Homo sapiens: one gene and its partner. The protein of the gene in region 1 purifies or fractionates together with the protein of each later gene. This does not show direct contact. Each region holds a gene or a part of one and is shown on either strand. Other genes may lie near its edges. The genes, in order: TTC38 and PFAS.

What was found.
Region 2: the proteins of TTC38 (region 1) and PFAS fractionate together in Homo sapiens (co-fractionation; one large-scale study listed by BioGRID). This does not show direct contact.

What each region holds. Positions count from the first base shown.
Region 1 is NC_000022.11:46,288,366-46,292,175, forward strand, and holds part of TTC38 (tetratricopeptide repeat protein 38), read left to right. Parts: intron 1-57; coding exon 58-223; intron 224-1,036; coding exon 1,037-1,196; intron 1,197-1,460; coding exon 1,461-1,534; intron 1,535-3,810.
Region 2 is NC_000017.11:8,259,063-8,262,872, reverse strand, and holds part of PFAS (phosphoribosylformylglycinamidine synthase), read right to left. Parts: intron 1-3,810. UniProt on the Homo sapiens protein: Phosphoribosylformylglycinamidine synthase involved in the purines biosynthetic pathway. Catalyzes the ATP-dependent conversion of formylglycinamide ribonucleotide (FGAR) and glutamine to yield formylglycinamidine ribonucleotide (FGAM) and glutamate.

The DNA of each region.
Region 1 (3,810 bases):
ACGGGACATGCCCCAGAGCCTCACTCCAGGCCCTGGGTCTCCTCCCCATGTCCTCAGGAGTGTCTGTGGGCCAGCGGTGGCAGGATGTCCTGCCTGTGGCCCGGAAGCACAGCCGAGACCACATCCTGCTGTTCAATGACGCACACTTCCTGATGGCATCCCTGGGTGCACACGACCCCCAGACCACACAGGAGCTGCTGACCACCCTGCGGGACGCCAGCGAGTATGCAGAGGGGCCTTCTCGGGGTGGGGGTCCTCACCCTGCCGAGAGGGTGAGGGGGTGCTAGGGCCATGCTGAGACCTGTTCAGTGCCTGCCCCGCCTGTGAGTGCAGCAGGGGGGATGCCCATGGAGGCAGCTCCCAGGTGTGCACCCCTATAGATGTGCATCCCCTGGTGCAGACCCCCAAGGTGTGTACACCCACAGCTGTACAACTGGTTGCCCCAAGACACAGAGCTGCCTCCATCCCCAGGGTGGGTATGAGATCCGCAGGGTCACAGGGCTGCCTCCCGTGGAGAGGACACAGTGAAGCCCTGAAGCCAGAGACACCTGCTGCTTACAGGCCCTGAGGTCCTGGACGAGGTGCTTCTGTGCTCTGAACCTCAGTTTCCCCATCTAAATCAGGGCGATGCCTGGCAAGAGCTGGTGAGGGCTGACCTGGAGGACCTGGGCTGCCCTGCCCATTCCCTTCCGGGGGTGATGATTGCCTTGGCTTGCAGTGCCAGGCCTTTGCCTGTATTATCAGCAATCCTGACGGTTCTGTTAGATTGGCACTGTTATGCCTGCTTACAGATGAGCAAACTGAGGCTGGAAGGTGGGGGACCAGGTAGCTGGAAGTGGGCGAACTCCAACCCAGCTCTGAGCTCAGTACCCTGTCCTGTCCCCTCGATGGGCTGCCCCGCCTGTCACCTCACCTCATCAGTGTGGCATGTGTCAGGCACTGGACCAGGGACACCTCGCTGAGGAAGAAATGGCTCTGCCCTTCCCGGATGTTCTGTGATGGGCAGGCAGCTGAGGGCACCGTCTTGGGTTCGCAGATCCCCAGGGGAGAACTGCCAGCACCTCCTGGCCCGAGACGTGGGGCTGCCCCTGTGCCAGGCCCTGGTGGAGGCTGAGGACGGGAACCCTGACCGCGTCCTGGAGCTGCTCCTGCCCATCCGCTACCGGATCGTCCAGCTCGGTGGGAGCAATGCCCAGGTGAGCCGATGGCCGCCAGCTGGGGTGCCTAGGGCCTGGGCCAGGGAGTCTGGGCGCCCCGCAGCCCCCAAGTTTCTCCCATGGTGTTGGTGCCAACAATGTGGGTGTGAACGTGTCTCTCACACTCCCGCCGTGTAAGTTCGTCGTTGAGGGTGTGGCATCAACACCACTGTCTCCCTGGAGAGCAGGCAGCCCGCGGTGGGCGGGGGCTCGCCTCCCCCATCCTGAGGTACAGGAGACTCACATGCCCGATTGACATTTCAGAGAGACGTCTTCAACCAGCTGCTGATTCACGCGGCCTTAAACTGCACCTCCAGCGTCCATAAGAACGTAGCCCGGTGAGCTCCTGGCCCCTGCCCAGCACTCCCGACCTTCACAGGCTCTCCCTGCAGACCTCAGGAGTGCCTGGAAGCCCCACCACCCTTGGCCCGAGATGCTCCTGCTTCTGAGGCTGTGAGGTCGGGAGGCTGTGGGGAATTTGGTTCTCCTTTGTTAGCAGGCTCAGTGTGACCAAGTGGAGCCAGCCCCACCCCAGGCCCAACCTCCCACCCTTCCCAGCCCACTCCCTTTTAGCCTTGCTAAGCTACCTGGGTACGTAAACACGTCCTGCTCTTTCAGGCTCCTGGGCCTTTGCACGCTTGGAACACCCTTTCTCCTTTTTTGCACCTGGCCGACACCTAATGCTCAGTTAGACCTCAGCTCATTTCACCTGCCTGCCTGTGCTGGGTACCGAGAGGGAGCAGTGAGCAGGCACACCAGTCACTGGCTACCAGGAGCCCATCTGTAGTCGGGGGAGCGACAGGGAGCAATCAGTCCCACAGACACGTAAACTCGCACTGAGGGAGCAGCAGCTGAGGGCAGACCCGAAACCACAGTGGGTTTAGCCAGGCCAGGCATGGGGCTGGTAGGAGGGTGGCGTGGCTGGAGGGTGAGTGTTAGGGTGGCATGGCTGGAGGGTGAGTGTGTTAGGGCAGCGTGGCTGGAGGGTGTTAGGAGGGTGGTGTGGCTGGAGGGTGAGTGTTAGGAGGGTGGCGTGGCTGGAGGGTGAGTGTTAGGAGGGTGGCGTGGCTGGAAGGTGTGTTAGGGTGGCGTGGCTGGAGGGTGAGTGTTAGGAGGGTGGTGTGGCTGGCAGGCGAGTGTCAGGAGGGTGGCATAGCTGGCAGATGAGAGTGCTGGGGGAACTCCAAAGAGCCCTCACCATTGCCAGCAGCCTTGGTGCTTCCATGGCCCAGCTTGCCTCCCTCCACTTAGGCTGCTGAGCTCTTGGCCAGCAGCTGCGTAGCCCGTGTGCCTGAGCGGCGAGTTTGACACCTCTCCTTGCCCATGTCCCTGCCACCCTCAGACATAAGTGAAAGGAAGAATAGAGGAGTCATGGGGTGCCTGGTGGGGAAGGTGTGCTGTGAGAGCAGGTGGCAGCCCGGGTCCACAGGAGGCCCTTGGCTGGTGACAAGCCCAGTGGTTTAGGCGCAGGTGCACCAGCGCAGCTCCCTCCAGGCAGGGTTACCCAAACTGAGCTGTACAGGTTCTGTGGTACTCATGAAACAGGTCTGGCTGGCAGCACTGGAACCGCCTAGAACTGTAAAATGTCTTGGACGCATGCTCCCCGCTTTCCCCTTCCATGGCTGTAGACAAAACCATGCGTGTTTCTTTGGTGGTCAAGCCCCCTGGGGAGCTCAGGCTGTGGTGTGGGTGGGAGTTGGTGCCTCTGGCAGCAGCGGTGGGGAAAGTGGCTGTGTGGACAGGAGGGCTGAGGATGGAGCTGGGGTGACATCTGTGGGGCAGTGCGGCAGTGCCGATGTGGCCTTCTGCGGGGCCCAGTGGGGGAGGGCAGGGGGAGAGCAGGCTGCACAGGGAGCCGACTGCATTAGGAGACGTGGAGGGGGCCTTCTCTCCAAGTCCTGTCCTGCTACCAGGCAGCATCCATGGGGCCATCAGCACAGCTCACCAGCCCCCAAGGTGGGAAACCTTCCACCCACAGCCATGGTGCCCCCCACAATGAGTTCCCGGCCCCAGCCCCTTCACACCACCCACGCCCTCTAGAACCACTGTTTTCAGGTGTTTGGGGGCTGTCTTAGTCAGTTTGGGTTGTTATTTTAAAAGTGCCACAGACAGGCCGGGCACGGTGGCTCATGCCTGTAATCCCAGCACTTTCGGAGGCCAAGGCGGGTGGATCACCTGAGGTCAGGAGTTCAAGACCAGCCTGGCTAATATGGTGAAACTCCGCCTCTACTAAAAATACAAAAAATTAGCCGGGCGTGGTGGTGGGTACCTGTAATCCCGGCTAGTCGGGAGCCTGAGGCAGGAGAATCGCTTGAACCTGGGAGGTGGAGGTTGCAGTGAGCCGAGATCGCGTCATTGCACTCCAGCCTGAGTGACCGAGGGAGATTCTATCTCAAAAAATTAAAAAATAAAAGTGCCACAGTCTGGGCGGCTTGCACAGTAGGCATGCACTGTCTCACAGTTCTGGAGGCTGGAATGTCCAGGAACAAGGCCTGGCTGGGTTCAGTTTCTGCTGAGGCCTCTCTTCCTGGCTTGTGGACAGCCACTTTCTTGCTGTGTCCTCACATGACCTTTCCTTTGAGTGCTAATTCTTTCACGTCTCTTCTTTCTTCTT
Region 2 (3,810 bases), on another chromosome or scaffold:
GAGGCCTCGAAAGCAAGGCAGCGTGAACACAGAGGAAGCTGATGTTAGGGAGAAGCCTGACCAGCTTTTTTTTTTTTGAGATGGAGTCTCGCTCTGTTGTCCAGGCTGAAGTACAGTGGTGTGATCTCAGCTCACTGCAACCTCCGTCTCCTGGGTTCAAGCGATATTCCTGCCTCAGCCTCCTGAGTAGCTGGGACTACAGGCGCCTGCTATCGTGCCCGGCTAATTTTTGTATTTTTTCAGTAGAGACAGGGTTTCACCATCTTGGCCAGGCTGGTCTCAAACTCCTGACCTCAGGTGATCCGCCCACCTCGGCCTCCCAAAGTGTTGGGATTACAGTCGTGAGCCACCCTGCCTAGCCCAGAAGCCTTACCACTTGACTGGGTTGATAGGAGAGTAAACTGATATCAACTACGGAGGACGATTTGGCAATAACAACCAAAATGACAAATGCACACAGTCTCTGATTGGGTAAATACACTTTGAGGAAGTCATCCCGCTGATTTATTTGCACAGGTATAAAATCACCTACTTACAAGATTAAACACCACAGTAACGTTTGTATTAGCAAGTACATGAAATAACCTAAAGGCTGACAACAGAGACCTCATTAAGTAAACTATGGTAAGTCTATACAATGAAAGACTAAGCCACCAAAAAAAGAGAATATAGGAATGTAATGAAGTAATATGATTTCATCAATATGAAATTATTTCCAAGATATACTGCTAAGCGAAAAATGAAAAAGGCAAAAATATCTATGTCTATTTACAGTAGCATCAAAAAGAATAAAAATAATTAGGAATAAATTTAACAATAGAAGTAAGGCTTATACACTAAAAACTTTTTTTTTTTTTGAGATGGGGTCTTGCTCGGTTGCCCAGGCTGGAGTGCAGTGATGCAATCTCGGCTCACTGCAACCTCTGGATGCGGAAGGGTCCTGAAGCCTGGGGGCTCCAGGGTAGAAACTGTGGGAGAACTCACCCATACTCCCAGCACTTTGGGAGACTGAGGCGGGCGGATCGCTTGAGCTCAGGAATTCGAGACCAGCCTGGCTAACACAGTGAAATCCAATCTTTACAAAAAATGCAAAAATTAGCCAGGCATGGTGGCCGGAGCTTGTAGTCTCAGCTACTCAGGAGGCTAAGGTGGGAGGATTGCCTGAGCCCGGAAGATGGAGGTTGCAGTGAGCTGAGATCGCACCACTGCACTCCAGCCTGGGTGACAGAGTGAGATCCCATCTCAAAAAAGAAAAAAGAAATAGGAAAGGATCTGAATAGATGTTTCTCTAAGGAAGATATACGCATAGCTAACTAGCATACGAAAACATGCTCGGCCAGGTGCGGTGGCTCACGCCTGTAATCCTAGCACTTTGGGAGGCTGAGGCGGGTGGATTACCTGAGCTCAGGAGTTTGAGACCAGCCTGGGCAACACGGTGAAACCCCATCTCTACTAAAATACAAAAGAAATTAGCTAGGTGTGGTGGCACGTGCCTGTAATCCCAGCTATTTGGGAGGCTGAGGCAGGGGAATTGCTTGAACCCGGGAGGCGGAGGTTGCAGTGAGCTGAGATTGCGCCATTGCACTCCAGCCTGAGTAACAGAGCAAGACTCTGTCTCTACAAAAAAAAAAAAGAAAGAAAGAAAACACGCTCAACATCATTAGTCATTAGAGAAAAACAAACCAAATCCACAATGAAATACTGCTTCATACCCACTATTATGCCTTACAATCAAAAGGACAGATATTAACAAGTGTTGTCAAGCATGTGGAGAAACTGGAACCCTCACACACTGCCAGAGAGAATGTAAAATGGTACAGCTGCTTTGGAAAACAGTTTGGCAATTTTTTGAAAAGCTGAACATAGTTACCACATGACCCAGCAATTCCACCCCTAGTTATATACCTGGGAGAAATTATAACATATGTTCATACAAAAACTTGTACATAGGCCGGGCGCGGTGGCTCACGCCTGTAATCCCAGCACTTTGGGAGGCTGAGGCAGGCGGATCACGAGATCGGGAGATAGAGACCACCCTGGCTAACACGGCAAAACCCCGTCTCTGCTAAAAACACATAAAATTAGCCGGGCGTGGTGGTGGGCACCTGTGGTCCCAGCTACTCGGGAGGCTGAGGCAGGAGAGTGGCGTGAACCCGGGAGGCGGGGCTTGCAGTGAGCCGAGAAAGCGCCATTACGCTCCAGCTTGGGCGACAGAGCGAGACTCCGTCTCAAAAAAACCAAACCAAAACAAAACAAAAAAACTTGTACATAAATGTTCATAGCAGCATTATGCATAATAGCTAAAAAGCTGAAACAACCCCAATGTCCACCAACTAAGGAATGGGTAAACAAAATGCGACATAGCTACATAATGGGATATTATTCAGCCATAAAAAGAAATAAAGTACTGATGCAACGGATAACCCCTGAAAACATTAAGCTAAGTGAAAGAAGGCAGACACAAAAGGCCGCATATTGTATGATTCCATTTTGGTCATGGGCTGACTAATGACATTTTGCTTAACAACAGACCACATATACAACAGTGATCCCTTAAGATTATAATTGTGCTGAAAAATTCCTATTGCCTAGTGGCATCGTGGCACGCTGGTGGGTGATGCTATTGTAAATAAACCTACTATACTGCCAGTCACACAAAAGTATACTGCAAACCATTATTGTATGTATACTACATAATACTTCATAATGACAATAAATGACTATTACTGGTTTATGTATTTACCACACTTAAAAAAAAATTTTTTTTTTTTTGAGACAGAGTCTCACTCTTACGTCCAGACTGGAGTGCAGTGGCGTAAACTTGGCTCACTGCAACCTCCACCTCCCAGGTTCAAGTGATTCTCCTGCCTCAGCCTCCCGAGTAGCTGGGATTATAGGTGCGCGCCACCACACCCAGCTAATATTTGAATTTTTGGCAGAGAGGGGGTTTCACCATGTTGGCCAGGCTGGTCTTGAACTCCTGACCTCAGGTGATCTGCCCACCATGGCCTCCCAAAGTGCTGGGATTACAGGCGTGAGCCACCACACTCAGCCTACATTTATTTTTTATTTTTATTCTTTTTTGGAGACAGGGTTTCACTCTGTCACTCATGCTGGAGTGCAGTGGTATGATCATAGCTCACTACAGCCTTGAGCTCCTTGGCTCAAGCGATCTTCCCACCTAAGCCTCCTGGGTAGCTGGGACTACAGGTGTACACCACCATATCCAGCTAAGTTTTATTTCTTAATTTTTTTAGAGACAGGGGTCTGACTGTATTCCCCAGACTGGTCTCAAACTCCTGGCCTCAAGTAATCCCCCTGCCTTGGCCTCCCAAAGTGCTGGGATTACAGGCGTGAGCCACTGTGCCCAACCAACTATACTTTTTACTGTTATTTTAGAATGTACTCATTCTACTTATATAAAGCAAGTTTATTCTGGCTGGGCACCATGGCTCACACCTGTAATCCCAGTGCTTTGGAAGGCTGAAGCAGGAGAACTGCTTGAGCCCAGGAGCTCAAGGCCACAGTGAGCTAGGACAGAACCACTGTTCTTCAGCCTGGGTGACAAAGTAACACCCTGTCTCTAAAAAGAGAAAAAAAATCTGACTTGAGAAAGAAAATGCAGATTAAAAATAATAATAATTAACAAAAAAGAGAAAAAAAAGTTTACCTAAAAACGGTATGCCATGTTACATTGACAGTAGCTTCATATTATCTCATATTTACCACGTCTTTTTTTTTTTTTTTGACAGTGGTGCGATCGCAGTGGTGCGATCTCCACTCACTGCAACCTCCACCTCCCAGCTTCAA